Linked DNA regions of Homo sapiens. The protein of the gene in region 1 purifies or fractionates together with the protein of each later gene. This does not show direct contact. Each region holds a gene or a part of one and is shown on either strand. Other genes may lie near its edges.

The links. The genes of interacting proteins can lie anywhere in the genome.
Region 2: the proteins of ALDH9A1 (region 1) and RPS6KA3 fractionate together in Homo sapiens (co-fractionation; one large-scale study listed by BioGRID). This does not show direct contact.

Annotation. Positions count from the first base shown.
Region 1 is NC_000001.11:165,673,876-165,679,075, forward strand, and holds part of ALDH9A1 (4-trimethylaminobutyraldehyde dehydrogenase isoform 1 precursor), read right to left. Parts: intron 1-5,200. UniProt on the Homo sapiens protein: Converts gamma-trimethylaminobutyraldehyde into gamma-butyrobetaine with high efficiency (in vitro). Can catalyze the irreversible oxidation of a broad range of aldehydes to the corresponding acids in an NAD-dependent reaction, but with low efficiency.
Region 2 is NC_000023.11:20,172,910-20,176,409, reverse strand, and holds part of RPS6KA3 (ribosomal protein S6 kinase alpha-3), read left to right. Parts: intron 1-57; coding exon 58-160; intron 161-1,121; coding exon 1,122-1,246; intron 1,247-3,500. UniProt on the Homo sapiens protein: Serine/threonine-protein kinase that acts downstream of ERK (MAPK1/ERK2 and MAPK3/ERK1) signaling and mediates mitogenic and stress-induced activation of the transcription factors CREB1, ETV1/ER81 and NR4A1/NUR77, regulates translation through RPS6 and EIF4B phosphorylation, and mediates cellular proliferation, survival, and differentiation by modulating mTOR signaling and repressing pro-apoptotic function of BAD and DAPK1.

The DNA.
Region 1 (5,200 bases):
AGGCTGGGACGTACTGGACTGCATTCCCAAGAAGTTAGACATTCTAAGTCACAGGATAAGATAGGAGATCAGCACAAGATACAGGTCATAAAGACCTTGCTGATAAAACAAGCTGTGGTAAAGAAGCCAGCTAAGACCCACCAAAACCAAGATGGTGATGAGTGACCGCTGGTCGTCATTGCTGCTCATTATATGCTAATTATAATGCATCAACATGCTAAAAGACATACCCATCAGCACCATGACAGTTTACAAATGCCATGGCAACGTCATTTTACCCTATATGGTCTAAAATGAGGAGGCATGAATAACCCACCCCTTGTTTAGCATACGATCAAGAAATAACCACAAAAAGGGGCAACCAGCAGCCCCTGGGGCAGCTCTGCCTATGGAGTAGGCATTCTTTATTCCTTTACTTTCTTAATAAACTTCCTTTCACTAAAAAAAAAAAAAAAAAAAAAAAAAAGAATGTAAGTTAGTATAGCCATGAAGGAAAACAGGATAGGGGCTCTTTAAAAAATTAAAAATTGGCAGGGAACAGCGGCTCATGCCTGCAATCCCAGCACTTTGGGAGGCCGAGGTGGGCAGATCACCTGAGGTCAGGAGTTCGAGACCAGCCTGGCCAACATGGAGAAACCCCGTCTCTACTAAAAATACAAAATTAGTCAGGCGTGGTGGCACATGCCTGTAATCCCAGCTACTCAGGAGGCTAAGGCAGGAAAATCACTTGAACCCAGGAGGCGGAAGTTGCAGTGAGCTGAGATCGTGCCATTGCACTCCAGCCTGGGCAACTAAGTGAGACTCCGAATCAAAAAAAAAAAAAAAAAAAATTAAAAATAGAACCATCCTATGATTCAGCAATTCCTCTTCTGGGTATATACCAAAGGAAATGAAATCAGTAGCTTAAAGACATATCTGCACTCCCATGCTCAGTGCAGCATTATTCACAATAACCAAGATAAGGAAATAACCCCATTGCCAGATGAACGGATAAATTGTGATACATATTTAAAATCACACTGGGCATGGTGGCTCATGCCAGGCGTGGTGGCTCACGCCTATAATCCCACACTTTGGAAGGCTGAGGCGGGTGGATCGCCTGAGCTCAGGAGTTCAAGACCAGCCTGGCCAACATGGTGAAACCCTGTCTCTACTAAAAATACAAAAAAATTAACTGGGTGTGGTAGCGCATGCCTCTAGTCCCAGCTACTTGGGAGGGTGAGGCAGGAGAATCGCTTGAGCTCCAGGGGCGAAGGTTGCAGTGAACCAAGATCGTGTCACTGCACTCCAACTTGGGCTACAGAGTGAGACTCCATCTCGAAAAAATAATAATAATAAAATAAATTCACATTACGTCACAATTATTTTTAGTGCTCTCTCTCTCTCTCTATATATATATAAAGTATACATAGTACAGATTATGTAGAATATTCTATATATTTATTCTATATATTCTATACTATATGTATTCTTTGTGTGTGTATATTCATCCACACACACACATAGCAAAGAAAGCAAAGTACAAAAGAGTACCTCTAATGTGCTACCTTTTGTGTATGAAAGAAGAATAAGAAATATACAAGTACCTATTCATTTGTGGAAAAAGAAACACAGGAAGCAAAAACCAGAAACAAATCAGACTGGCTACCCACAGGAGATGGACAAAACTGGGTGGGAAGGAGGCACTGGAAACAGAGTACACAGGATGGGGAGCAGTAACACTTCTGAGTATCTGTTTTTGTAAAATTCTGATGTTTAGAACCATGTTTGTGTTTTGCCTAATCAAAATAAAATTTTAAAATCAGCAAGGATGGGGGAAATAAAACCCAAATGAATACAAACACAAACAAATGAATCTGTTATTTTAAATGAGTATCATAACCACACTGAAGGAGGGTGAAGGAAAGGTAGAACTGACCCAAGTAACTTTTGAACACAGTATTCTGACTATACTCTCACGCTGAATATAAAAACAACTGTAAAAAAATTCTGAGCTCTAATTAGAAGGTTTATTTTCCACAGAGGTATGGATTTACAAATCTGAAACTACTATTATTAGAATACTAAGTGTATTCTATGATGAGCAATTAGATAAACATTGTGGATAATGGGAGTCAAATTTCTTACTGTCAGAGAACAAATACAAATATGGAAAGGGAGAAGGCAGAAATGAACCCTGTGGTATTAGACTATAATTAAAGTATCTGGATGAACTTATTATTATGTAGACAGACAGATACAGAACTAGATATGTGCACAGACATATATACAAACATGTATTTCCCAGCACTGGCCTCTGAGAGGGCCTAGAAGCAATGATACACCAGTAGCAACAAGCACACCTGGCACTCAGATCTTGGTTTCTAAATACCATTTACCACTAAATGGAACCAGGGCTTTTGGTTGGTACTGCCGTCTTCCAGTAATTCACCAAAACGACAAACACAGGGAAAGAGAAGAATTACCCAATATATGTTCTCTAGGCCTTTTAGAAAACATGGAGTTGTTCCTTGGGCCACGTGCATGCAAATCTATAAGAAAGGCAATACTGTAGACATCAAGCGAACGGGTACTATTCAAAAAGGAATGCCCAAAAGCATTACCTGGGAAAAACTGGAAGAGTCTACAATGTTACCCAGCATGTTGTTGGCACTGCTGTAAACAAATTAAGGGCAAAATTCTTGCCAAGAGAATTAACGTGCACATTGAGCACATTAAGCGCTCTAAGACCCAAGATAGCTTCTGAAATGCATGAAAGAAGATGATCAGAAAAAGAAGGAAGCCAAAGAGAAAGGTACCTGGTTTCAGCTGAAGCACCAGCCTACTCCACCCAGGGAATCCCACTGTGTGAGAACCAACGGGAAGGAGCCTGAGCTGCTGGAACCTATTCCCTATGAATTCATGGCATGATAGGTATAAAAAAATAAAAGACCTCTGGACTGCAAAATTGTTTCTCTTTATTTAGTAGAGAAGTGTGGTGTCCTCTCCCCCAAAAAAATATTTAAAGCAGATTTTAATTGTGTCCTAACTCATTGTGTAATGTCTTTACTGTTCAGACTTAGTATTTTTCTTGCTGAAAGATGTGAGGTGGCTTATCGTGCAACAAATTACTCAACTGGTTAGAAAACAATCAGATATTATTTATGAAATACTTGTACTGGTTTGAAGATAGTCCTTCTAAATCATAAAAAAAAGTTTACAAAAAATAAAAAACAGGCCGGGCACGGTGGCACATGCCTGCAATCCCAGCACTTTGGGAGGCCGAGGCATTTGGATCACTTGAGCCCAGGAGTTCAAGACCAGCCTGGCCAACACAGTGAAACCCCGTCTCTACAAAAAATACAAAAATTAGCTGAATGTGGTGGTGTGCTACACTGGAGACTGAGGTGGGAGGATTGTTTGACCTTGGAGGGGCCGAGATTGCAGTGAGCCAAGAAAGCACCACTGCACTCCGGCCTGGGCAACAGAGCAGGACCCTGTCTCAAAAATTAATAATAAACAGATAAACAATAATGGAACCAGGCCTCCTTCAGAGAAATGGCTGGTTCCAGAGCACAGCCAGGGGAAGTATGAGTCTGGAACACTTTGCTATGCCAGAAAGTAATGAAGTATTCAAAGAATAATGAGGGCATATCAAAAGGTCACGGAAAGGGATTCCCACCAGCCATCTGCAATTATTTTAGCATCAAAATAAATAATGAGGCTGGGTACAATGGCTCATGCCTGTAATCCCAGCACTTTGGGAGGCCAAGGCAGGTGTATCATGAGGTCAGGAGATCCAGACCATCCTGGCTAACATGGTAAAACCTCATCTCTACTAAAAACACAAAAAATTAGCCAGGCGTGGTGGCGGGTGCCTGTAGTCTCAGCTACTTGGGAGGCTGAGGCAGAAGAATGGCATGAACCCAGGAGACAGAGCTTGCAGTGAGCCGAGATCGCACCACTGTACTCCAGCCTGGGCGACAGAGCAAGACTCTGTCTCAAAAAAAAAAAAAAAAAAAAAATTAGCCAGCCGTGGTGGCACACACCTGTAGTCCCAGCTATTTGGGAGGCTGAAACAGGAGAATCACTTGAACCCGAACCCAGGTGGTGGAGGTTGCAGTGAGCTGAGATCGTGCCACTGCACTCCAGCCTGGGTGACAGAGTGAGACTCCGTCTCAATAAAAAAATAAAATAAAGGCCGGGTACAGTGGCTCACACTTGTAATCCCAGCACTTTGGGAGGCCAACGTGGGTGGATTGTGAAGTCAGGAGTTTGAGACCAGCCTGGCCAACACAGTGAAACTCTGTCTCTACTAAAAATACAAAAATTAGCTGGGCATGGTGGCGGGCACCTGTAATCCCAGCTACTCAGGAGGCTGAGGCGGGGGAATCGCTTAAACCTGGGAGGCAGAGGATGCAGTGAGCCGAGATCGTGCCACTGCACTACCGTCTGGGGGACAGAGCTAGACTCCGTCTCAAAAAATAAGTAAGTAAATAAATAAAAATAAAAAATAAATAAATAATGATAGTATTGGATTATAACACATAGAATGAAATAAGAATCCATGGGTCCATACTGATATAAATAAATGAATGGAAAACAAACAGGGGTGAAGGGCAAGTTCTTTCTTACAGTAGAAGGTGAACAAATATAGAAGAAATGATGGAATTGGAAAATCACCATTTGCAACCCCATAATAAAAATTGTTTTCAGCAAGAATCGTCAGTGGTGATAGAAGTATTTACTGCATGAAAGTTTGATGAGGAACAGGATAGTCTCAAAATACCTCCTACAAGATCTTATTAACCACAAAGTAAAAAACAGTAACTTTACAGTGAGGACTTACCTTAAAGCAAGTGATCAAAGTTAAATCACCACTGAGTAGGATATGACATCATGTTTGTGGTATTTTTGCCAAAAATTCATAATATGAATCTAACAGAAAACATCAGACAGACCCAAACTAAGGAACATTCTACAAAATGAATGGCCTGTTCTCCCAAAATGTCAACGTCCTGAAAGACAAGAATAACTGAAGAACTGTTCTCAGCTAAAGGAGATTAAAGACAAGACAACTAAAGGCAATGCATCATCCTTGACTGGATCCTAGACCGGAAAAAAAACCATTTTTGTTCTATTTTACTATGAGGACATTAGTCAAACAAGTGGCAAAATTTGAATAAGGGCTATAGATTGAGTAAGGGCTATAGATTCAGTA
Region 2 (3,500 bases), on another chromosome or scaffold:
TGAAATATTTCTTTATAATTAAAATATGTCTAAGTCTCTTTTTTTTTTCCCCTCCAGAAACTGTATAGAAGAGAAATTCATCCGCCATTTAAACCTGCAACGGGCAGGCCTGAAGATACATTCTATTTTGATCCTGAGTTTACTGCAAAAACTCCCAAAGGTAAGGAGAAAATGTGAAAATCCAAATATAAGACAACAAATATGTTTTTTTCTTGTTTCATCAGAAAATCTTTTCCAGACTCTGGGCGCGGTGGCTCACACTTGTAATCCCAGCACTTTGGGAGGCTGAGGCGAGCAGATCGCTTGAGGCCAGGAGTTGGAGACCAGCTTGGCCAACATAGTGAAACGCTGTCTCTACTAAAAATACCAAAATTAGCCAGGTTTGGTGGCATGTGCCTGTAATCCCAGCTACTTGGGTGGCTGAGGCACGAGAATCGCTTGAACCTGGGAGGTGGAGGTTGCAGTGCATCAAAATTGCACCACTGCACTCCAGCCTGGGTGACAGAGCGACACTCTGTCTCAAAAAGAAAAAAAGAAAATCTTTTCCTGGATAACTCTCTAAGCTATCTTCACATCTCCTAAATTTGCTGTAGATCAACCTTGTATCTCCCCTGTTCCACCCCAACTAGGTTATTATTGAGGGCTGCAGTTTCTAATATGGTAGCCAGTAGCCACATGTGGCTAATTAAATTTAAATTAATTAAAATTTAAAGTGTAGTTTCTCAGTCACGCTAGGCACGTTTCAAATGTCGAAAAGCTGCATGTAGCTAGTGGCTATCAGACTGTAAAGTTAAAGAAAATTTCCATCATTTCAGGAAATTCCATGGGACAGCATTAATTTTGAATACCATTAACCCTATAATTCATCGATGTATTATAGTCTTCAAATGAATTAGCTATTTTCTAGGCTCCGAGGGACTAGGATGTTGGTGTTGTAATGGCAATACACAATCAGAACAGATCTGATACAGTGCCTCACAGGTATCCTGGAAAGCAAGAGGTATATACTGTGTACCTGAGAAATAGAATTCCAGAATAAGTGAAAAAGGTCATAGTGTCAACAGTTTTTCCCTTAATTTCCTTTCAAATGAATCTTCTTTGTCACTTCTTACTCTTTTCAGATTCACCTGGCATTCCACCTAGTGCTAATGCACATCAGCTTTTTCGGGGGTTTAGTTTTGTTGCTATTACCTCAGATGATGAAAGCCAAGCTATGCAGACAGTTGGTGTACATTCAATTGTTCAGGTGAGTGGATGTCTAAATAATTTTAGATTTGGAATGTTGTAAGATATAGTTCATTCTGTGAATAGATCTTTTTCTACTGACTTCAAGTGAGCAATTTAAAATACATTTTAGACTGGGCATAGTGGCTCACACCCGTAATCCCAGCACTTTGGGAGGCCAAGGCAGTTGGATCACTTGAGGTCAGAAGTTCAAGACCAGCCTGGCCAACATGGTGAAACCCCTATCTCTACTAAAAATACAAAAATGAGTTGGGCATAGTGGCACGTGCCTGTAATTCCAGGTACTCAGGAGGCTGAGGCACAAGAATCACTTGATTCTGAGGCAGAGGTTGCAGTGAGCGGAGATCGCACCACTGCACTCCAGCCTGGGTGACAGAGTTGAAACTCTGTCTCAAAAAATAAAATAAAATACATTTTATATCATTAACTTTACTCTTAGGAATTTTTTTCATATGTCATCGAAAAGGTTGCAAGAACCAAAATCCTAGATACCTATGTGACTTGAAAGTAGAGTTTTAGGCCAGGTGCGGTGGCTCATGCTTGTAATCCCAGCACTTTGGGAGGCCGAGGCGGGCAGATCACAAGGTCAGGAGTTCGAGACCAGCCTGTCCAACACAGTGAAACCCCGTCTCTACTAAAAATACAAAAATTAGCTGGGCGTGGTGGCGCATGCCTGTAATCCCAGCTACTTAGGAGGCCGAGGCAAGAGAATCACTTGAACCCGGGAGGCAGAGTTTGCAGTGAGCCGAGATCCGCCACTGTACTCCAGCCTGGGCGACAGAGCTAGACTCTGTCTCAGAAAAAAAAAAAAAAAAAAGAAAGTAGAATTTTAAAAGAGTTGAGATAAACATGACGATGTTGTCTATATCCTCTCCTGTGCCTCAAAATGTTTTTCATGCCGAGTTTGTTTCACCCTCTGCCTCCTTCAGGTCAGCTATGATGAATTGAGGTCTTCTGGTTCTTTGATGCCTTAGAACAGGAGTCGGCAGACTTTCTCTGTGAAGGGTCAGATAATACTTGAGGCTTTGTGGGCTATATGGGCTGTGTCACAACTACTCAACTCTGCTATGTAGCACAAAACAACCACAGACAATACATAAACAAGTGGGCATGGCTGTGCACCAATAAAACTTTATTTACACACACAGGCAATGAATCAGATTTGGCTCACTGGCCATAGTTTGTCAACCTTTGCCTTAGAAAAGATACAAGAAATAAAAATGAACTCAAATCTTAAGTCATCTTTCTAATCAAAGGGAACTCGATATATCTTTTGAAGCATTGGATTCTTTTTAGGATATCATTTGTACTTGGATTTGCTTGATGATTAAGTTGCTTTTGCTCTAAAGTTTTTTCATGAGTCAGTTATCCTGTTTTCCATTTTGTAGAAAAACAATTAAAACACTGGTTTTTAAGCAGAGCTCATGTTGAAATAGTCTGTGCCATTTACTATGCAAGCACATGAATGTATGGCAAGTTTTTAAATTACAAATTCTGTACCTAACATAGAAACCACAAACTTGTATATCCTACAAAATTCAAGTTTTAACATATACAAAGCTCATAGGCATGGATGTCTCATATCAGTATAGCCAAGGGCAGCACAACTTTCCTCAGCCTGTTTATGGAATCAGTAAGTTGCTGTTCATCATCTACTGTGTGTTATTAGTCCCTAACCCATGACGAGCTTCTTTAGCATAAGTTGTGTAAGGCTATGACTTCAGGGTGAAGAAAGGAGGGAGTGGCTACTGAAAGTCCAAAATGGCGATAACAGGTATTGCTTGCAAATACATTATTTTTATTTAATCTTCACCATTACCCTCTGAGAAAATACAGGCTCAAAGTTACATAGCCTGTAAGTGGTGTACCTGAGACAAGAATTCAGATATTCTAATTCTGAATCCTCCTAAATCCTTTCCTTCTATACCATAGGTTTCAAACTTCTCATTTGCAAAGGTACTTGAAAACCTATAGCCGACTGGGGACTGGAATAAGGCTGAATCACAGACAAAGATGTAGGCCCCATATCAAGTAGCTCTGCTTTTTCTGTTGTGCAAATTCAATTTTTGTTTGTAACATAAGCTTTTTTAAGTCATATTTCTTGCTGTACACTTCATTGTAAACACTTTCAAAATCACTTGTTTGTAGAATAATAAGTACTATAAAGATGTATTTTTATTCTTATTCATTTATATGTAGGGCATCAACAATGCATGCTGAGTAACATACTTCCCTATTATAAAATGCACTAAAGG